4 separate regions of the Homo sapiens genome follow, and regions 2, 3 and 4 are each linked to region 1. Evidence: fine-mapped expression QTL. A gene starts in region 1. Each other region holds a variant in brackets. All regions are shown on one strand. Distances are from middle to middle. Region 1 holds the start of CMKLR1 (chemerin chemokine-like receptor 1). Region 2 has its middle 60 kb from the start of LINC01498. Region 3 overlaps CMKLR1 (chemerin chemokine-like receptor 1). Region 4 overlaps CMKLR1 (chemerin chemokine-like receptor 1).

What was found. PIP is the estimated chance that this variant, and not a neighbour inherited with it, causes the effect.
Region 2: its variant is fine-mapped to the expression of CMKLR1 in whole blood (TOPMed, PIP above 0.99).
Region 3: its variant is fine-mapped to the expression of CMKLR1 in tibial nerve (GTEx, PIP above 0.99).
Region 4: its variant is fine-mapped to the expression of CMKLR1 in whole blood (TOPMed, PIP above 0.99).

What each region holds. Positions count from the first base shown.
Region 1 is chr12:108,336,653-108,342,298 of GRCh38, reverse strand. It overlaps CMKLR1 (chemerin chemokine-like receptor 1), which reads left to right and starts at 2,988. Exons shown (of 4, transcript NM_001142343.2): 1 at 2,988-3,272. RefSeq lists a silencer at 2,705-2,824 and an enhancer at 2,932-3,555.
Region 2 is chr12:108,410,544-108,416,189 of GRCh38, reverse strand. No RefSeq gene overlaps it. Among named protein-coding and RNA genes, the nearest start is that of LINC01498, 60 kb to the left of the region's middle. The variant G/A (reference allele first, on the strand shown) is at 2,933.
Region 3 is chr12:108,302,155-108,307,800 of GRCh38, reverse strand. The region is part of intron 2 of CMKLR1 (chemerin chemokine-like receptor 1); the gene reads left to right. Among named protein-coding and RNA genes, the nearest start is that of CMKLR1, 34 kb to the left of the region's middle. RefSeq lists enhancers at 1,614-2,135, 3,706-4,227. The variant C/T (reference allele first, on the strand shown) is at 2,507.
Region 4 is chr12:108,311,047-108,316,692 of GRCh38, reverse strand. All of the region lies in intron 2 of CMKLR1 (chemerin chemokine-like receptor 1), which reads left to right. Among named protein-coding and RNA genes, the nearest start is that of CMKLR1, 25 kb to the left of the region's middle. RefSeq lists an enhancer at 1-151 and silencers at 1-161, 267-561. The variant C/T (reference allele first, on the strand shown) is at 2,823.

The DNA of each region.
Region 1 (5,646 bases):
CCTCCTCCCCTTTCTTCCTCTTCCCTCCTCCTCTCCTCTTCCCTCTTTTTCCTCTTTTCATCTCCCTCCTCCCTTTCCCTCCTCCTCCTTACCCCCTCCCCCTCTTCTCCTCCTCCCTCTCCCCTCTCCTCCCCTTGACCCCTCCTCTTCCCTCCTCCTCCTCTCTTCCTCCTTCCTCCTCCTCTTTTCATCTCCTTCCTCCCTTTCCCTCCTCCTCCTTACTCCCTCCTCCTCGTCTCCTCCTCCCCCACCCTCTCCTCCTCCCCTTTCTTTCTCTTCCCTCCTCCTCCGCTCCTCTTCCCTCCTCCTCTTTTCATATCCCTCCTCCCTTTCCCTCCTCCTCCTCCCCCTCCCCTCTCCTCTACTTGGCCCCTCCTTTTTCCTCCTCCTCCTCTCCTCTTTCCCTCCTCCTCCTCTCCTTTTTCCCTCCTCCTCTTTTCCTCTCCCTCCTCCCTTTCCCTCTTCCTCCTCTTCCTCTTCCACTGTCCACAGCAGATGAGGAAACTGAGACTCCAAAGGTGAAAGGCCTTGCCCAAGTCACACAGCTTACAGTGACAGCGACAGGAATTCAAACCAGGTCCGTCTGCTATCAAAGCCTCTGTTCTTAGCCACTATTCTGTGCATTGGCAAGGTGACTTGTTCCAGGGCCCATTTCAATGGATTCCTAATTGAAATGCCTATGTCAGTGGATCTCAAACTTGAGCAAGCATCAGAATCCCCTGGAGGGCTTCTTAAAACCCAGATGGCTTCCTGGAGTCTCTGATTGCCAAGGTCTGCAGTGAGGCCCAAGGGTTTGTGTTTCTAACAAACTTCTGGGTGAGGCTGCTGGGGTTGGTATGGAAACTAGACTTTAGGAACCTCTGGTCTCTATTAGATGGTGATATACAAGATCCCTGCCACGTTATGGAAATATCCTCTCCTTTCACCAGGAGAACCTGGGGAATGACATGATTTGGCTTTGTGTCCCGACCCAAATCTCATCTTGAATTGGAATTCCATAATCCTCACGAGTCATGGGAGGGACCAGGTGGGAGGTAATTGAACATGGGGGTGGTTTTCCCCCCATCCTGTTCTCATGATAGTGAGTGAGTTCTCATGAAATCTGATGGTTTTATAAGAGGCTTCCCCCTTTGCCTGGCACTCATTGTCTCTCCTGCCACCCTGTGAAGAGGTACCTTCCATCATGATTGTAAGTTTCCTGAGGCCTCCCCTGCTATGCGAAAATGTGAGTCAATTAAACCTTTTTTCTTTATAAATTACCCAGTCTTGGGTATTTCTTCACAGCAGTGTGAGAACGGACCAATACAATTACTAACTTCTGGGTGACCTTGGGTGAGTCCCTTGCCTCCTCTGGGTTCAGTGTTCTCATCTGTACAGTAAGTGTTTCGATATGATGTTTTGTTCCCTAGATAAGCCCAAAGAAGAAGAGAGCAAGGAAGACAGTTGGGTAGACTGGGCCTGACTTCTGACTATAGAGACCTGTGTGACCTCAGGCAAGAGACTCAATCTCTCTGGGCTTCAAGTTATCTGTGAAATGGAAGAATGAAATTAGATGGTTTCTAAGTGTAAAGCTCACTGAATTAAAGGATTGAGGATGGTGGGGAGAGGTCGGTGGGGTTCTAAGGCTGATCAGACGATGAGGACATAGTCCTCCACCTGCCCAAGACTTTGAGGCCCAAAACACAGGTTTCTCTCCTTCTCTCCCTCCCTCCCCATCTCCCTCTCCCTTCACCTTCCCCTCCTCCCCATTACCTTCCTCCCTGCCCTCCCTTTTCTTCCTTTCTTTCTTCTCCTCCCTTCCCCTCTCTTCCCCTCCCCTGCCCTTCCCTTTTCTTTTTCTTTCTAAAAATATTATTTTAGGCAGTCGTAGGCAGTCTTGGCTTTGGAATCAGACAGACTCAGATCCAGCCATGGCTCGGTCAGCATGAGCTTGGCGCCCTGGGCAAAACGACTTCTGCTCTGTGGCCCTAGCATCCTCATGTGTAGAATGGGCAAGTGATGCCCCCCCGACGTGGGTGGTGGTTCACACGGCTTACTCCATGGAAGCACTTGGCACAGGGGCCCACATGGGCACTTCTGTTATTTCTTCAGTCTGGAGGCCAAGGGTGGGCCTCCGAGCCAGACAACATAGTTGGAATCCCAGCTCTGTCAGCTGCTGGCGGTGTGGTCTTGAGCAAGTGACTTAATCTCTCTGTACCCCAGTTTCCTTATTGGTAAGACTGGAGTAGTAATAATTCCTGTTATCTAGGGTTGCCGTGAAGAGTAAGTACGCATCGCCTAGCACGCTGCCTGGCTGTCGGTTGTTTTGATTATTCCACTAATGATGGTGACCACACAGCCGATGAACCAGGCACTTAGCGCCTGGTTAGGGCAGGGAACAGAATACAGTTCTTTCCCTACAGAGTTCCTGGTGCAAGGAGTTCTCGGTGCAAGGAGAGAGACATCTTAACAGGCAAGGACAGCACTGCATCAGTGAGGTGATGGGGTGACCCTGAGGGGCACAGCAGCCCCCGAGGGTTGGGGAAGGCTTCCCTGGGAGGTGACCTTCAACCTGAGACCTGAAGAGGCAGTAGGAGACCATCGGGCCACGAATTAGGGCAGGAATAGCATCCAGGTGGGAGGAACAGCGTTGCAAAGGCCCAGGGTGAGAGGCAGCCAATCTCTCGGTCAGTGTGGAGCTTGAGCCCCTCACCGGGAGCAGAGGCGCTTGCACTTCCCCCAGCAGCCGGGTGCTCAGATGTGCTCCCTGTTTGCGCTCAGTGGGCACGGCTCCCCGGCTGCAAGAGGCTGCCAGAGGGGCGGGTCGTCCCCAGCGGGCCCCCGCCGCCACCCACAAGCCCAGTCCCCGGCTGGTAGGGGCACCCTCCCCTCGCAGCCCCCTCTCCACGCAGCTAGCCGCCCCCGCCCTAGGTCAGCCCAGTTTCCTGCCCCTCCCTCCTGCTCTCCTCCCTCCAGCTGTTTCTCTGGCTGAGTTCTGTCCCAGTCCCATTCAGGGAAGCAGCCCCGGCGGCCAGCAGGGAGCTCAGGACAGAGCAGGCTCCCTGGGAAGCCTCCGGGTGATAGGGGTGTTCCAGCTGCGGCGCTCTGGGGGTTCAGAGGGGGATCTTGAATGAACAAATGAATGAACTGCTTTCTGGGCAAACAGCCACAGCCAGAGGAGCCTGTGATTGGCAGAAAGAAGCCAGGGTGTGCAAGTCTCCCCAACAGCCTCGAGTGGCCTGCAGTCACAGGGAACCCTCAGGAAGACCTTCCGGGCAGAGACCAGAGGGAAGGTATCATCACACACTTGCCTTGGGTGTCTTCTGAGGGGGGCCAGGGAAGGGGAATGAATACTAACAGAGAGAAAAGTTTGTTTCTTTTTATAATTTCATATTTGTTAAAAGGAAGAGTTTTGTTATTATTTTCAGATGTCAAAAGTAATGCATGTTCATTGTTTAAAGAAATAGCAAGGATACACAACTAAATATATGAATGTGGATTTCCACATCTAGTTTGGTAACCTGCTTAACCACAGATTGTGAACTTTTTTCCATATCACCTATATTCTTCCAATATACATTTTTCATGGCTGCATAGAAAGGCTATCTTAAGATTATTTGACTTTTCCATAATAGATTTGCTTCTTTTTTTTTATTAGAACAGTGCTGCAATGAATATTTAGTATGACATCTTTGTGTGTGTGTCTTATGAATACCTTTTAGAAATTGCTAGATTTAAGGTTTGCCTATTTTTAAGACTTCTGAGCTTTTGGTCACACTGCACCCTGGAAGGCCGTGGCAGCTTGACCTCTCTACGATGTTATACCAGGGCACAGTATTCTCACATACTAAACCCACCTTGTTGCTACCCATCCCTTAAACTTTCCCTGATGTGAAGTCGAGAATAATATCTAGATGCTTCAATAGGCATTTCATTTCTTTGTTAGTGTTGATTCTCTTTTATAAACTTATTTTTCACATTTCTAGTCTGACTCTCCTGTTCAAGTCTGTTCCCATTTTTTTCTCCTCTGGGGGCATGTTTATCTTTTTCCAATTGATATCTAAGGGTTCTTTGTATATAAAGGACACAAAACCTTTGCCGGCACTCTCTGTTGAAAATATTCCACTCCCTCCTCTGTCTTCAGAATAGCCCATTTTAAATGGGCAAGCCAGCTTTGGCAAAATTATAAGCATTACAACATCAGGGAACTACTACTTGATATAAGCCCAATCACTCAGACCTGTGCGGTTCAGAGATGCCAGATCACTGGTCTGAGGTCACACGCCTGAACGTCCAGGTTCTGAGTCTTTCTTTTTCTATTAGGGAAAGCCCTCAACTTCCCTTTTGCATCCCCTACCTCCTTCTCAAGACCAATCTTCTCTGTGGTTCTTGCTGTATCTCCTGCCCCTTCCAAACTGGTTTGAAGGTAAGATTCCTCTAAATGCCTTGGCTGCTGAGGTGAGTGTGACTGGGTCATTCAGGCCTCTGGTGCAGGAGGAGGCAGCTTGGCCTTTTCTTTAACCTAAACCAGTGGCACTCAAATGATGATGTGTCATACACTTGGGAGGTCCACAGGAGAGTTATCTCTTGATGCACAGGGGCCTTCTTTGGACTCCCCCAAAACTTCAGGGAACAGATAACCTTAACTTTGGGCAAGTCATGCCTTTCTCTGGCTTGACTTGTTCTGAGAAGTCCCCTACCCGCACTGGGTCAGGGCTTGTCTGCTAGGCTCTCCCAGGGCCTATCCCTCCCTTATCACGGCTCCTACCACACCGTGTTCTAATGACCAGTCATCTTGTCTGTCTCTCCTTCTAGCCGGGAGGCCCCTAGAGGCCAGATCTGGGATATTACTTTTTTTCTGCATCCTCAGTCCCCTGCACAAGAACTAGCATATATTAGGGTCATTGTTCATGGAATAAATAAAGTAACCAGGTGTCAGTTTCACCATCTGTAAAATGGGGTGGGGGAAGTTGGACTGAAGTCCCATCTCTTAGATGTTTACCTAATAACTCCTCTCAGTTTGCAAACCACTTTCTCGAGATGATTTTATCAAATCCTCACCATGGCCACATGATGAAGGTACTATTAACATGCCCATTTTACAGATTAGGAAACAGAAGCCTGGAGAGTTCTGATGCTAGACCTCCCCACAAAAGGGAGTAGAACATTGTGCAAGAAGGGGCACCTTGGTCTTAGGCAAGGTACTCCCACTCTCTGGCCACAATAATATCATCTGTAAATAAGGATGATATTATTTGATATTATTATCACTCTGGGGGTGGGCTTGAATTGGCCTGCCACCTGCCAACTGAGTGACATGGAATCAGTTATTCCTCATCTTTGTGCCTGAGTTTCCTCATCTATAAAATGGGAATATGATCAGTAACTGCCTCATAAGATTATTCTAAAGAGTAAATGAGATCATACAAGTAAAGCTGTAAGCAGAGGATTTGTTGTAAAATAAGGTCTCTATAAACATTAGCTATTGTTCTGATGATCATTTCTATTCCACTGTGCCTGTCTATACCTGTGACACTCATCTGAGCCAAATGGAAATTATTATTGATTTCTTTAGTGGATTATTAATGCTCTTATTCCCACTGATGTACAAGAAAACCAAAAGCTTATTTCATTCTCTTTGAGCTACACCACATGGGTGCAGACATT
Region 2 (5,646 bases), 74 kb before region 1:
TTGGCTGATTGCTCAAGGGCCTGGAGAAATATTGGAAGATGAGGTAAAGAGTTTGGGGATAAGGTATGCAGATAGAGATATGAGACTGGCTACAAAGCGTAGATTCCTTATTCTGTATCTTTTTTTTTTTTTTTTGAGATGGAGTCTCACTCTGTTGCCCAGGATGGAGTGCAGTGGCACGATCTTGGCTCACTGCAACTTCTGTTTCCTGGGTTCAAGCAATTATCCTGCCTCAGCCTCCCGAGTAGCTGGGATTACAAAGGCCTGCCACCATGCCTGGCTAATTTTTGTATTTTTAGTAGAGACAGAGTTTTGCCATGTTGGCCAGGCTGGTCTTGAGCTCCTGATCTCAGGTGATCTGCCCACCTCAGCCTTCCAAAGTGCTGGAATTACAAGCATGAGCCACCATGCCCTGGCCTTATTTCGTATTTTGATGCCAACCAGAAGACATCTATTGTGAAAAAAGCACTAAAAAAATCATATGGACAGGATGACTTAGCCAGTAGGTGTCAGCTATTCTCTCTCTGTGGCCAACCCAGGGTTTGCACCACGGAGTAGCCGTGGTGGCAGAGATGGAGATGATGCATGGGACAAACACCATGATCTGTCTTACCAAGGCTGATCCAGGTACTGCTGTTGCTCAATCACTAATCTTCTCACAACAGAGAGAATGCTGTCTCCCACATGATATAATCCCTGGAGGAAACCATCCGCACCTGATGTGGACATGATAGAGTGAAAAATTGACTGTATTAGATTTTTACACTGTGGACATCTTGATTGGGATTGACGTGTATTCCAGGTGTGTGTTTGCCTTTCCTGCTCTCAGGGCCTCAGCCAACACTGCTGTTTAAGGATTCATATGTATGTGCCATCATGTGATACTGTAGAATCCTACTTTGTGCCAAGTGATGCAGCAGTGGGCACATGACCATAAGATCCACTGGTCTTACCGTATTCTGCATTATCCAGAGGCGGGTACATCTGTTAGAGCAGTGGAATGGCCCACTGAACGCATAGCTGATCTGTTAGCTTAGAGATGACACCCTGCAAGTTTGGCACACTAGCCTTATGGATGCAGAATATTCTGTAAATCAATGGCCATTATATCTTGCTGTGTCATTAAGAGGTAGAATATTGGGTTCGAGAGCCAAGAAATGAAAATTGGCATTGATTCGCTCTCCATACCTCCTAGTGATGAGCTTGGAGGATTTGTGTGGTGTCATCAGGCTCTGTGAACCTCAAGATTATAATTTCCAGCGGGGGCAATTTCCACCAGAGGACACAATAAAAGCAAACATAAATCTATGCCTGCCATCTGGGCACTTTGAGAAGACCATAAGGCAAAGAAAATAGTCACCATCCTGGCACAGGGCATTGGCCCTTCTTATCATGATGAGACTGGGCTGCAGCTACACCATGAGAACAGAGAGAGATATTATTGGTTCTCAGGTGCTTCACCGGGGCATTACTTTGTACCCCCATGACTAACTGTCACTGAAAATGGGCAGTTAGCAACCACTGCCTGATAAGAGCATTGTAACCAGGGGCTCAGACCCTCCAGGATGAGGGTGTGTATCACTCCATCTGACCAGCCTTTTAGTCCAGCAGAAGTGCTAACTGATGGAGAGGGTGATCTAGAATGAGTCGTGGAGGAGGGAGATGGTGAGTATTAGTGATAGCCTCGAGACCACCTGCAGCCGTGGAAGCTCTAGTTTATCCCACTAATCTTCTTGTCAAAATTTCTTCCAAATGGTGACCAGTCAGAGTCCTAGAGAGAAGCTACAGCTGCATGGAATGAACTTAATGTGAGAAGCGATGGATCGGAGCAGTTTAAGGCGTAGACTGTAATAGACGCTGTTGGTGTCCCTCCCAGATCCCTTTAATGGGCTGGTGGACCCGTGTTCCAGGTGCTGTGAGTGCTGACTGCATGCCTCATGGATACCTCGCCTCATTCTCTGGTGAGTCAGCTTTAGCCCTCTATTACCTGGCAGCAGCACAGAGCCAGTAACTGACACAGAGGAACAAAATCCAGATTCCTGGCCTCTAGGTGTTGTCATCTCTATGATGTAATTTATGCTCCACAGATCCTTCTGGGTCCAGGCTAAGGCTATTCTCTAGCTGGCCATACCCTTGCTTAGAGTTTACCCTCTTCCCTGCTTTGCCCCCATTATCTCTTTCCTCCTGTGAGTACTCACTCAAAACATCACTTGCAGGAGCATTGCACCAAAAACACAAAAATCTGGGGATTACCAAAAATTTGAAATGTCATGATCAGCTAATTCTTTAATACTATCAAGTAATTTCTTAGCTCACTAATTTCTTAAAATCATCAAATATCTACTGTTAAAATTTCTCCCAATGATTTAATTTTTATTTAAAAAATTTTAAAATGTATTTATTTTATTTACAACTCTTAAGTTCAGGGGTACATGTGCAGGATGTGCAGGTCTGTTACATAGGTAAACATGTGCCATGGCGGTTTGCTGCACAGATCATCCCAAAACTATGGTTTGCTTGTTTGGATCCATATTAGTTTTCCATTGCTGCTGTAACAAATCACTATAAACTTGGTGGCTTAAGCAATACAAATTTATGATCTTATAGTTCTGGAAGTTGAACACGGATATCTCTGAGCAGAAGTCAAGGCATCATTAGAGCCATGTGCCTTTCTGGAGGCTCTGTAGGAGAACCTGCCTGTTTGTGTTTTCCACCTTCTTAGAGGTTGTTCACATCCTGTGGCTTGTGGCTCCCTTCCTCCACCATCTAAACCAGTTACATCGCTCCTCTCTGATCCTTCTTTTATAGTCACATTGCTTTCTGATTACAGCCAGAAAGGATTCTCCACTTTTACAGACTCATTAAATTAGACTGACCCTTCCTGAAAAACTTGGAGTAATCTTCCCATCTCAAGATCCCTAACCTTAACCTC[G/A]TGTGCGAAGTCTCTTTTGCCATAACCTGTATTCACAGGTTCTAGGGATGAGGAGATGAACATCTTTGCAGGCCATTATTCTGCCCACCACAGGATCCAAATAAAGTTCATATGTTTCACTTGGTTAATATGCCTAAGTCTTTTTAAATCTGTAGATCCCCTTCCTTTCTAACTCTCTCTCTCTCTTGCTTTTTTCAGAGACAGGGTCTCACACTCTGTCACCCAGGCTGGAGTGCAGTGGTGTGATCATAGCTCACTGCAGCCTTGAACTCCTGGGCCCAAGCAATCCTTCCACCTCAGCCTCCTGAGTTGCTGGGAATACAGGCTCACACCACCCTGTCTGGTGTTTTTATTTGTTGTAGAGATGGGGGTCTCACTATGTTGCCCAGGCTGGTCTTGAACTCCCGGCCTCAAGCTATCCTTCCACCTCAGCCTCCCAGAGCACTGGGTTTACAGGAATGAATCACTGTACCTGTCCCCTTCCTTTATAACCCTTTTGGTCTTTGCAATTTATTGTGGAAGAACTGTTATTTTCTCTAGAAGATTCCTCCAGTCTATATTTTGCTATAGTCTCATGGTTTCTTTAAGGTGTTCTTTTCTTGGTTTTCCTTGAAAATTGGTAGTTGGATCTAGAGGGTTTATCAGACTTATGTTCATTTCTTTTTGTAAGACATAGCAGGTAGTGTGCTTTTTGTGATATTAGCAGCTATTGATGCTCAATGCCTAAATCTATTAATTTTGTAGGGTTTGTAAAAGGGTGATACTCTTTCTATAATTCCATATTTATTTATTACCTATAATACATCTATAATGTATTATCAAATATTTGGGTAGCCTGAGGTACAGTTCTTTGAGGAAAGGCAGAATAAATGCATGCTCCTTTCCCTTTATTTACTAATTTTCACAATAGTTTGTTCACTAGTATCCTCCACCCATGATCGGTGAATTTCCTTTCGATTATCATAATGAAGTCAAGGATTTAAGCATCTCGATTCCAAACCCAGATCTTCTATATTCTAGTTATAGAACAACGGTGCCCAAATTTTTGCTCACCAAGAATCCTGTTGTTTTATCCCCAGGACTCCTTAATTGAAAATATCTTGCTCACTAAATCCACTGCATAAAATAGGAATTAATTAGTTGCCCAAATTTTAATAAGTTAAAGATAATCATGAGTCAAATAAGGTTCTGATTGCAATAGTCCTAATGTAATTCTTCTAGAGTCTACTAGAATGCCAGAATACCAGCCAAAATAAAAGATTCTTTAGTCAATCTGGTCTTACCCCCTGTAGTTAGCCTTTCTATATTGAGAATAGCTTGAATACCCTTGCCCCCATAATGGACTCCAAGAATCCGTTGTTTTGAAACCATTGACTTAACAACCAACAAGCTAGTAGTTATTGAGTCCTTCCTATGGGGTAAGCAATGTTCTAAGTACTTCAATGTATGGCATATTTAATTCTCAGAACCACCTTAAGAGGTAGCCACTATTATTATCTTCATTTTGTGGATGAGAAAATTGAGTGACAAGAAAAGTTTAGTGGCTTGCCCAAGGTCACACAGCTGGTGAATGATGGAGCTGGGAGTGGCAACCCTGGGCCCATACTCCCACATGGCGATGATTAGCTGATGCTGAGTGGTGGCTTCCTTCCTTAGGCCAAGCATATACCCCTCGGGTCACGATAGCATCCACCTGTCCGTCTTCATTCATTGACATTACTGGCCTAGCCTCTGCAGGCATTTGGGTTTGAGATCTCTGGCATGCCTCACCAACGCTTTACACATCTTGTGATTCTAGGAAGCTTTAATTGGGTTTGTAATAAGAATGGATGCCTCATCTTAACCTGTCCAGGGAATAGAGTTTTATTTGTCCTGGATCTCACGCTGGGCTGGATTTATAAATGCAGAATCCCAGCACCAAATTTAGCAGAGTGAATTATTTGGTTTCCCAAATGTAGGCCACAGTATCTAATTGGAGCTGTAATGCAGTAACTGTGTGGGCAATTACCCAGCGAGGTGATGGGTGATGGACATGTTCAAGATGGAATCTGGGAGCACTGTATCAAATAATTTCCTTTTCTCTTTCTTTTTCCACAAGAAACAATTTTCTTCCCTGTTGTCCATCTTGGTGGTTTCAGGTCTCCTTTTGGACCTTGGAGACAACATTGAAGGTATGGCTCAAAGACCAGCCAGCCAGCAAGACATTATGGAACTCAAGTCCCGTACCACAGTTGCTTGCTACGTGAGGCTGGGTTACCTCTTGAGGCTACGTGAGGCTGGGTTACCTCTTGGAGCTCTCTGGGTCTGTTATTTTAGTAACATGAAGACCTAGAAACATTTTCCTTGTCAAAGACCTTTGGTTCTATGAGGTAAGTGGGATGGTGTGGGGGTGGTGCTCTGGGAATAGGCAGATTTTGTTTCCATGCAAGATATGGTAACTGCCTTTATTTGAGTACTTACTGTATACCATATATATGCAAAGCATTTTGCAGACATTATCTCATTCAGAACACACAGTGCAACAACATATACAAACTGAGCCTCAGAGCAGCAAAGTGATTTGTCCTTTACTCCACAGCCAGCAAGTGGCAGAGCTGCAAAACCCATTGAAGAAGATTCACTGGGAGGTGAAGACTTCCCACTGGGAGGCTGGACAATGACTTGGCAGGGAGTTGGTCAGTTAAGTCCACTCTCATTCTAATGATCTGTGAACT
Region 3 (5,646 bases), 34 kb after region 1:
ACCTCCTTGTTAGGTGTTAATGCCCTGTCCCGACTGAGGCCAGACAATAGCTTGGTTTCAGCTGAGGGACTTGAATAAAGTGAAACACGCTTTGCAGAGCCTCTTGCAGAGGATGTAGGGATGCTGGGGAGGTGGGAGGCTGAGCTGAAGCTGGGAATGGCAGAAGCCATGGCTTCCTTATCCAGCTCACCAGAGCAACAGAAAGGAAGGAGCGAGGCATGGGACTCAAACACAAGGGCTCCAGAGCGGATGAGTCTGGGTTCTCCACCTCCTTGCCCTTCTCCCCACCCGCTGGCAGATTGGGACCCTGTGGCTGGGTAAGTTTCTTGAGTTGCCACTTTTCAGGTATCTCAGGGTGCCAGAGAAGAGAAGCAAGGGCAGAGGGTGAGCTGTGCTGACCTGGTTGTAAGAGAAGAGTGACTTCTCAGGGGGCGCTTCTGGAGGCATGTGGGGCCTCCGCTGCCTCCCAGAGTCGAGATTCCAAGCCCACACCCAGAACAGCACACCAAGTGCGTGCCACAGGCTGGCTCCCAGCATGGGCAGAAGTCACTCACCCCAGCTGCCTTCTTGACCACATCCTGAGCAAGCTGTAAGCATCCCCAGCACCAGCCACCCTTTGGCTACAATGTGTTCATAGCTTGGGGATTATTTGCAAGAGTGGACCCAAGGCTGACGTCAGGGGATTAACTAAATATGGTGCTGGACCTCCCAGTCCAGTGGGATATGCGCAGGGGAGAAAATTTGTTTACAGGCCAGCTCCAGGGGCTGGGGCGGTGTTTATGGGGAGAGGCACAAGCTGGATGGCTGGGAAGATACTTAGGGCTTGTGTACGGGACCCATTATTGGGGGCTACAGGGGCTTCCTGGCCTGGAAGGACAGATGTCCATCAAATGCTCTTGCTGGGGACCTTCTGTGACTAGGAATGGCTGCTGGGGAGATGGTTACAAGGGCAGCTAGGTGTCCAATAAAGTAATGAGGCTGAGTTTGCAAGGGCGTGTTCTCATGGAACTTGGTTCCGTCTGGGTCTGGGCTCGAGCCTCAGCTCAGTCCTCAGGTAGGCAGGGTCTAGATTGCTCAGGCCATAGTAAGGCATTGGTCTTGATTCTAAGAACAAGGAGGTGCTAAGAGGTTTTCAGCAAGGAGTGACATGATGTGGTTTGCTTCTTGAAAAGATTTGTCTACTAGGAATAAAATGGTCTGTGTACTAGGTAGATAGGTTTCTAACCAGTTAGGAGCCCCTGGTAGCCACATAGGTAAGCAGAGGTGATGCTCACAGCTGTGAGTTGTTGGGAGGACAAAATGGGAAGAACTTGTTGATAGATGTGTGGGTAGGGAGGGAGGGGAAAGTGTGGAGAGTCTGGTTTCTGAGTCAGAGTGTTGGCAGGAGATGGACAACCCACTCAAATGAGGTGATTAACGAGAACTTAGTCAGGGGAGGACTGACAAAAGGGTAGACAGTACAAGGGATCCCTACCACGCTCCGGGTCCAGTGAAGGCGAGAACTCACTGTTCCTAGACTGAGGGGCTAGAGCAGGAAGTAGTTAAGGCACCCAAGGAGTGTGGCTGTGGCCAACCCGCACACCTCTGACAAGGAGGGAGCTGGAGGGTTTGTACCCAACCGCACGCTCCACGCCTGCAGTTGTGGATCAAACCAGAGGTCAGAGGGCAAACAGCCTATTGAGATTTTCAAGCAGGTCAGCCTGTAGGGCACAGAACAGACAGGGATCTGGAGACAGAGATCCCCGGAGAGGAAGGAAACGCTTTTAAGGCTCAAGGAGTAGTGTTCTAATGGGAGGATGCCAGGCAGTGGCGTGAATATTTTGGGTGGGGGGGTCTCCCTGAGTCGGTGAGCTCATCAGCTGCTTTTCCTGGCCTCTAAGCAGGTGGGCTGTCTGGGTTCAGGGGCATAAGCTCCTTGTTTTTGCCCATTCTTATGGAGTCCTAAGCTCCGTCGTGGCCCCTTCCAAACCCGAAAGAAAATGGGACAGTCTGTTAGGCAGCCCGTGCCGCTCTGCTCTGCTGCAGTGACTCAGTGCGAGCTCCCACATGTGGGCGTGGGACCAGGGAGGAAATTCTCTCCTGACACGGAGCTAATTCTGTCCTGGGGCTGGCAGCCAGGCCTGTGGCTGGAACATCTGCAGACACTGTGTGGTTTCCAGGTTCCCGAGTCTGTCAGAGCCTGGGGATACAGGGATCTGGAGGTGTCTCTGGAGCCATCCTTGGGAGATGAGAGGCCCCTTCTCTCTGCCCTGGAGGGTAGGAGATCTGGTGAATGGACTGGCCCAGAAGGCAGCAGGCAAAGACATCAGCACCTACAGTCGTCCAGGCCAGGGGGAGGCTGGTATGCTGCTCAGGAGAGACATTTTTGAGGGCAAGAGTGGTGACTGGCCCGCCTCATTACATTTCAGCTGCTGGTTGAGGCTGTGATCTTGTGCTTTGGGGTCAAAAAGTCCTTGGTTCAAATCCCGAGCTGATGCTTAAAGGCTGTGTGAATCTGGACTAGTCA[C/T]TTCACCTCTCTGAGTCCCTATTTGCAAATCTATGGAACGGTCTATGTGGATCACACTGAGGCAGAAGTTATGGAAGTCCCAGGCACAGTTCTAGGCTCTGGGGATACACCATAAACAAGAGAGACCAAGTCCCTCTTTTCTATGATTTAGAGAGGGTCATGCACTCTCTGGGCCTTAGTTTCCCCTGCTACAAGAGATGGTCCTCCGAGGGGCCTCCCAGCTCCTTTTGGAGGCTGACAGAATTGGAGGAGAGGTGTCTGAGCCATCTGGCTGGACTGTCAGGGTGGGTCATGTGGGGAGAAGATGGGGACAGGAGCCAGGCCAAACATGGTCATTTGCAGAGCGAGGAATGTTTCCAGTTTCCCTGATGGGCTCTTACGCCCACAGGCCCTGATAAAGCCCCTGCATTTGGCCTGTGGCCTGCTTTCAGGAAGAGGTTAGTGGTAGCCTGCGATGAAAGAGACAGCAGATTGACAGAGTGGCTGCTGGAAGCTTGGGCTGGCTAGGCGCACAGGTGAGGAATGTTGCAGGTGAGGGGCAGCCGAGCCTGTCAGAGGGGGAGGGCTGACCCGTGACCGGTGTGCAGGAGGTGGAGAAAACATGGGAAGAGAGAGGAGGAGGTGGAGACTGAGAAGACAGGGAGACTGCAGAGAGATGGAAGAGACGGAGAGGGCCAGGAACAAAGAGAGGCAAACACAGAGACTGGGGGAGAGAGAGAGGCAGAAAGAACAAGTCAGATATGAGACAGAGGAGAGTAAGAACAGGACAGAGGTGGAAGCAGGGAAAGAGACAAAGGACAGAGAGACCAGGGCAGAAAAGGAGCCAGTGCTTTGCGATGTAAAGAACCCATTGGGCAAAGGGGTTTAATCAAGGAAGCAGAAGGTAAATATCTGCTGCCCAGATGGTCCCCGGCCCTGCTGTACACTGAGCCCATAGGACACACACCGGCAGGGGAACAGCCAGAGGAGGTGAGGCCCTGGATCCATATGAACTTGGGTTTTGAATCCCAGTCCTGGTAATGGCAAGGAGAACTCACTGTCTCTAGGCTGAGGGGCAAGAGGGAGCAGTGGTTCTTGGTGCCTGGAGAGTATAGCTGTGGCCAAGTCGACCCATGGAGACCCTACAGGGAAGGAGCTGGAGGGTAAACACCCAACCTTGCTGTCCTCCAGCCCTGCAATCCCTGCTTAACACTGTCATCGATCAACCAACCAGGCAGGTGTGAGGCAAGCTACTTGCTCCCCTGCCTCAGCTTCAGACATCCCCGTTGGTAAAGTGGGACTGATACCAGTGACCTTGCAGGGTTAGGGGGAGGCTGCAGAGAGAAAAGGTGTGCTCTCACCCACGGTGTGCTGCATCCCAGCAGCCACACCAGCTCTGGGGCGCAGAAGGCTCCACATGTCCTTGGAGGATGGATGAATAAATGAATGATCCCCGCCTCCAAAGGCTTCTCCTGTAACCGAGATTGGAGGCATTTCACATTCAGGCTATTAACCAGAGGCAGAGGGACCTGGGGGAGAAAATTGCAGGGGACCCGGAGCCCTGCCTTGCTCCGTCTGTAAAATGCACACCCTGAATCTTGCCAGATTGATTTTCTGGGGGCCCTTGGGAGGTTCCACTGGGGCAAAAGCCAGAGTTTTGTGGAATGTTCCAAGGAGGCGAAGCAGTGGACAGAGAGTGAGCTTGTCAATTCAGCAGGGTTTGGGCTTGAAGCCTGTCTCTGAGCATTCCTTCAGAATGGCTAATTGGACCTACCTTACTTACCTGAGCTCTCTGTGTGACCTTGGGCACGTTAGTTACCTTCTCTGTGCCTGTTTTCTCATTAGTAGCAGTGCTTACAACAGTGGCTGGACTGTAGTGAGGACTGTACGTGTATTTGTTTAATAAAACTTAAGCCAATAATGTCCATTGGAGGCTTTTGTTCTGCATGGCAGGAGAAGCCAGATGTGACCTTGAGGCCCTGTCCCTTTCCCAGCAAGGGTCCGGCAGCGGGGGTGTGGGCAGGACACAACTGTCTGCCTGGTGACCATCCCACCCCCAGCAGGGGCTGGGCTCGACGAGGAAGGACTAGGGCCCAGGACTCTTTGCACAGCCTCTCCTGGCTGGGCTGACGTTGTTACTTCCTTTGGCCGGTCCAAGTTCATTCCCGCCTAACGGGGAAAACGGGTGGAGCTCTGAGGGCTGCATGTTTGGCCCCCTGCCTGGCCACTGTGGCTCGGTCAGGGATTCAGTAACCAAGACTCTGAGCTGGGCACCACCCAAGCATGAGCCCCAGGCAGGGATCGGAGTGTTTGTTTGTTTGTTTTGGGGTTTCCTGGACCTCAGGAGAGGAGGGAGGGTTGACATAATTATACCCCTCCATCCCTCCACTTCTCCATCAGGGGCCCCCAGAAGTCCCTGCGCTTGTATTTTCTTTCTTCACTGTGCTCATTTCCCAGTAGCCCTATTTCCCAGTCCCGTGACCCCTCCCACCCTCTCTCCCATGGAGCCATTCTAATGTGTTCAATGTGCGTCTGGCTATTTGGCTGGATTCTTGCAAAACGTGTGTTGCCGCTTTGCAGACATGTTCTCAATGTACCACAGCACTATTAGGGTCCTGATAGCCAGCACCTGTGTGGCTCTTTGTTGAACTGACCTGAGGCTGGGAGTGGCTGGGAATGCACACTCCAGGACAGGGCGGAGGCATGCAAATACTCCTGGAATGTGACCTGCACTGTTCCCAGGGTCCTTGATGGGTGTGAGCCAAGGCCACCCTCTGTAGGACGCTGTGGGATGCTGCACCCCTGCCTGGCCTCCTCCCACTTCCTCACTCCCTCACCAGTTTTTCCTGAAATGCTTCCTTAATAAATCACTTTTGCCAGAATCGTCAGTTGAGGATTTGCTTCTGGGGAAAGAAGACATATCCAAAAACGATGCACATGGACACCTCCCTGTGTGTTTCCTTGCAGGGAGGTGGGGCACTGCCTGGATATTCACTCAGGAGCCATCACAGAGGGTTCGCAGATACCTGCAGCATGGCATGAGGTGCCTGTGCTCCCACCCGGCCAACCTGGGAAGCGTCCAGCTTTCTAGTTCTTGCCACAGTCTAGAAGGTGTAGAATGTCATCTGGTTGTGGTTTTCATGTGCATTTCTTTGATCTTC
Region 4 (5,646 bases), 26 kb after region 1:
AATAGCAAATGGCCCTCACCCCAGGAGGACAGCTATTCATGGGGCCCCTCCCTGCCCACACCGGGTGGCTCCATGGGGTCTTGTTAAACCTTCTCAGAGGTTGGCAGAAGACTCCTTTTAGCCTTGTCCCTTTCTTCTTGCCTCTGGGTCTCTCTTCCTGGGGACTTTCTTCACCCTGCCTTCGTCTTTCTTCTGCCACTTTGCTGCTTTGCCCTGACCGCTCTGTCCTCCTTTTTCCAGTCCCTGTGCGTCTCTCCTCTTCCTGCTGGCTTTCCTCTCCCTGCCCCTCTTCCCCCTCTCTTTCTGTCTACGTTGAGGAGGTGTCATCCTCTGTTCTCTCTGCTCTTTCTTGGCTGTGCTGCTTCTTCCTCCCTCCTAAGATCACCTATCCCGCCGAGCCCCTGCCCTGCTGGGGCCTGAAGTGAAGAGGGCTCTTCCCTCAAATTCCCTAGAGCTGAGGGGCAGGGCCAGCATCTCAGGCTGGCGACCAGTGCAGCCACACAGGGCTCAGAAGGCCTGTGCTTTGTTTAACACTTGGCAGTTGCTGTCCTGAATTCTCAGTAATTTTTGAATAAGGGGCTGCATTTTCATTTTGCAGTGACTCCATGAAGTATGCACTGTTTCTGCTGAGGATTATGAACTTCCTGGGGGGAACACATCCCCTCCTCTTAGAGCTGTAAGAGCTGGGCTGAGGCGCAGGGTCCAAGTGCTGGTCCTGCGTCTGCTCCTCACTCACCCAACAGTAAGCAGCAAGATTCATCTTCATTTTACCAATGAGATAAATCAAGGCTCAGAGAGGCCATGTCACTTGCCCAGGGACCCACAGCTCATGAGCCCGGATTGAAGGAAGCTGACTCTGAAATTTGGACATTCTGTGGTCCTTTCCTGGCTGAAACCATAGGGGCTTTGGTAAGCCACCCTTTTATCAGTGAACTAAGGCTCAGTCTTTGCATCTGGAAAATAGAGGTAGTGAAAGTAGCCATCTGTGCAGAACCAGCTGGTGTTTAAATCCTGGAAAGTTCCTGGCACATGGCTACCTCCTGAAACAGCAGCCACAGCCTTTCTGAGCCTCCATTTTCTCATCTGTCAAATGGGGATCATGGTGGTACCTGCCTCACAGGACCCTTATGGGAATTTAATGACACAGGACGTGTGCTTAGCTTAGGGCCTGGCACAAGTAGGTGGGCAAGGCTAGTACACAGGAGCTTCTAGGCCAGAGGAGGGAGTAATCTATGAGTAGGGAAACTGTAGGATTTATTGTCCTGACTGGGGCACTTTGAGAATGAAAGGAACATGACAAGAAGCATAAACAGGGATTGTTGTGGGCAAGCCAGGATGGAGGGTCACTCTACCTGTGTATCAAGTATGTCTTTGTCATGATTGTCTGTTTCATAAAATATGTTCACAGATAGGTGAGTATAAGGATGCCCCAGGCCCACCCCCAGCTGGTGTGGAGAAAGACTGTGTTTGGGCTGGGTGCAGTGGCTCACACCTGTAATCCCAGCACTTTGGGAGGCCGAGGCAGGTGGATCACCTGAGACCAGCCTGACCAACATGGAGAAACCCCATCACTGCTAAAAATACAAAATCAGCCAGGTGTGGTGGCGCATGCCTGTAATCTCAGCTACTTGGGAGGCTGAAGCAGGAGAATCGATTGAACCTGGGAGGTGGATATTGCGGTGAGCTGAGATTGCGCCATTGCACTCCAGCCTGGGCAACAAGAGCAAAACTCCGTCTCAAAAAAAAAAAAAAAAAAAACAAGGCTGTGTTCGAGCCTGGGCCATAGAGAATGATGTCCCTCGGGCTGGGCATGATGGAACATGATGGTAAGCCCAGCACTTTGGGAAGCAAAGTGGGAGGATAGCTTGAGGCCAGAAATTCAAGACCAGCTTGGGCAATATAGCAAGACCTCATCTCCAAAAATTAAAATAATAAAATTTTAAAAAGGGAGGGGGAAAAAAGAAAGAGTAGTGTCCCACTTATCACTGCTACTGCTACCAAAGCTTCAGTTCTGAAAAAACATCAGGGAGAATGACTTAAAGGCCACGGTTCAGGCCCCTTCTCAGATATTCTAGAAAATTCTTTGGATTACACCAGCAGTGCATACACCTGGATGTGTAGACTGAAACTCACAGTCATATCTAGGAAAAGCAGCTTTTACTGAATTGCAGTTTGGGGCAGTGCTGTCCATCAGTGAGTGTTTGGAGCCTCCCTTAAAACATTCAGGAACTGGAGACCCCGTTCCGTGATCAGATCCCCCATGTCTTCTCTCCACAGGCTTCTGGAGACAGTCCTTCTGCTCCTAGCATCAGGAAGCCTTACTATTCCCCTGAGTGGGTTTGGTTTTTAGCAAGGAGCATGTGACTCATGTAACTGGGTCCCCCTTTCAGGAAGCTGGGGTTCCAGTGTATGGTCCAGCCACTGTCAGTGTCTAGGAACTTCTGTGTCCCCTGCATTTCACCCTTAGCCGTGACTCCATTTTCTGTCTCTACACATGTTTCCCTTCCTTCTTTTACTTTAATTTATGTTCCCTGTATAAGTGAGCCTCTTTTGAACCTCCCACCATCCACAGCTGCATCACGCCAATAATTAAGTGAACAAAAATAAAAAATCGACAAACCTGCAAGCAAAACCATATTGTGGCACCCCTCCCCAACCCAGGAGAGCAGCTCAGTTGGCCTGGTGGGGGTCGGCTGGCAAAGGGTTAAGAATGATGCAGAGGAAGTGCTGGCGGAGATTAAAGGGAGGAAGTGGCTGCTGCCTGGGGAGGGAGGTGGCTGGCTTGTCCTGTGTGACTCCAGGGGCCTAAACCAACACTGACA[C/T]GAATGTGGCAGTTTGCTCAAGGTCAGTGTAGTGAAAAAAAGGAAGAGCTTTCCAATGACTTGACAAGTCTTTCTAGAAGTTCTACTGGTGGGGGTTTCAAACTCACTGATAGCTGACTCCAGACATAGCTCTCTTTAAACATAACAGCCAAAGGGCATGTTTGTTTGAGCCAGTCTCTTCATGTTCATAGAGTGACCAGCGGGCCCTGATTGGCTGGGACATTCCAGTTTGAGCACTTTACATTCTGCATCCCAGGACACCCCTTGGTTTCTGGCAAACCAGGACAACTGGTCACCCTATGCACCCTACGTATATGATCTCATGAAATCTTTACATTGACCCCCTTTACAGACGAGGAGTCTGTGATTTAGTAATCCAAGATTACATAGCATGGGAAGGGCCAAGCTGGGATTCACATGTGGATTTGCTGTAACTGAGTGAGGCTTAAGCTGTCAGCTGCACTGAGCCACTTCCCTTTTCCTGTAAGATGAGGGTGTGAGACCCCTTGATCCTAAAGCCTCTCTAGCAATGACTTTTAGGATTCTAGAATTTCCTCTGGTCTTCGAGCAGCTTTTTGTTTTCCATGGAAGGTGGGGTGGGGTAGGGTGGGGGGCAATTTTTCCAGCAAGACCCCTCCTAGGTCAAGGCTTGGGCTTTGCCTTGGGAGAGGTGACAGCCTGGTGACAGGGTCAAAAGGAAGGGCAGCCTGCCCCTCCTTCCCTGTGCCTGGGAACAGGGTGGGATCTCATACTCCACCGTCCTGATTGCTGGCAGTGGTGCCAGTCCATTTGTCAGCTGCTTGGGCTGGAGCCAGGGAATTCCAAGGGGCCAGAGCCTGCCTGAGCACTCCAAGGCCTCTGTGCTCGTGGCTGGCAGCCTAGGCAGGAGGACCCTGGGGCAGCTCAGGGCTCTGGGATTTTTCAAAGCTCCATGTGGCTGGACAGGCCTCTACAGACTCCCTGCCCTGGGAGTCTGGCCAGCCTGTGGAGACTGTGCAGAGGGGGGTGATTTGGAGTCTCTAAGTACCCCAAGTCAGTGAGGTAGCATTGTGAATGTGCAAGGTGCGGAAGTTGCACAGGTGGGGACAACTGATATGAGATCACAGGGCCCCGTGTGCAGCAGGCAAGCCACAGAACATAAAGGACAGTGACCGTCACTGAAGACCTGGACTCCAGAGTCAGGCAGTGCAGATTCAGATCTCTCCTCTGCCCCTTCCTACTGTGAGATCTTGGGCCAGTGCCCTTGCTTCTCTATGGCTTGATTTCCACATCTGAAAAATGGGAATGAAAATATCTACCTCGAAGGTTTGTTGTGAGTGGAGGCACTGAGTATGCCGTCTGTGCCTAATAAGCAGGGGGTGGATTCCATGAGCCCCAGACTCTCAGTTTTGGTTCCTCTCACCCCATAGCTGCACCCCAGGACCCTGTGACAGGCAGTGGGTGAGGGCTCTTCCCCATGGAGAAGCCGTGCTGGTAGGCTGTAAGGGAAGTCCTAGGGAGAGGAAGGAATGCTGCCTGGACACGTTTCACAGTCTTGTGATGAAAGGGGCCTGTCAGCCCATCCACGATGCTTGGAAATGCTGTGATAAGGGCATAGATGCTTTGAGTTCTCACAGATCTGAGTTCAAGTCCTGGTTCCACTGGGCACTGGCTGGCGATCCTGATCTGGTTCCTTTTACAGCCTCAGTTTCAACATCTGTGAAATGGAGGTAATGTCCTCAGGCCAGGGGGAAGATGGATTGTCAGGACACAAGGAGATGAGGGGGTGTCAAGCTCACAGCTAGGTGCCTGGCACGTAACAGGATGGGTCTCTTTCCTCTTGTCACCTTGCTGTTTGCTCTGCCTGGATTTGTGCACATGAGGCTGGGAGAAGCAAGGGGATGCTTGTGGAAAGCACACCCCAGGCAGAGGGACCTGCAAGAGCAGAGGCCCAGGTGCTTTGAACCATGCTCGGGGTACTGGGCTCCTTAAGCACAGGGAGCAGGTTGGTTTGGAAGGACTTGGCCTCTGAGGTCCCCCCAGCAGTCCTTCCGTGCCCCCAGCCTGGGGCTTCCCATGAGTCCTGCAGCCCTGTCCTGGGTCAGGGGTCGCTGACTTCACTTGGGTTGTCCAAGGGGAAGGGAGGCTAATGCCCATGCTCAGTGGCCCACCCTTCCTCCTGTTGCCTCTTGCCTCCACCAGCTCTCCCCCTCTATGCTGCCTTTTCCCCTTAGCGTCCTTTCCCTGGCACTTTTTTTCTTTTTAGGAGGCAAAGTCTTGCTCTGTCACCCAGGCTGGAGCGCAGTGGTGCAATCATAGCTCACTGCAGCCTCGACTTCCTGGGCTCAAGCGAGCCTCCCACCTTAGCCTCCTGAGTAGCTGGGACTAAAAGGTGTGTGTCACCACACTTGGCTAAATTTTTAAATTAAAATTTTTTCCCCTAGAGGCAGGGTCTCTCTATGATGCCCAAGCTGGTGTTGTACTCCTGGCTATAAGTGACCCTCCCGCCTCAGCCTCCCAAAGTGCTGGGATTACAGGCATGAGCCACTGTGCCCAGTCTCCCTAGCACTTTTAAGTGTTAATATCTCACACGCACACATACACACATTCATGTCAACCACTAACTGGATCTGACATAGTAGGAATGGTTTTGGCATCTGAGCCCCAGTCCTGACGCCATTTTGCTGTATAACTGTGGCCAAAAACCTCCTTTGTGTGTGGGCCTCTGCTTCTCCATCGTCATCACGACATTGACTTCAGTTCACTGGGGAAAAGTTGAAAGCAGGACCCTGATGGTGGAATTGAAGGCATAGCAGCAGTGTGTATCTGGCATCAATTTGCAGTG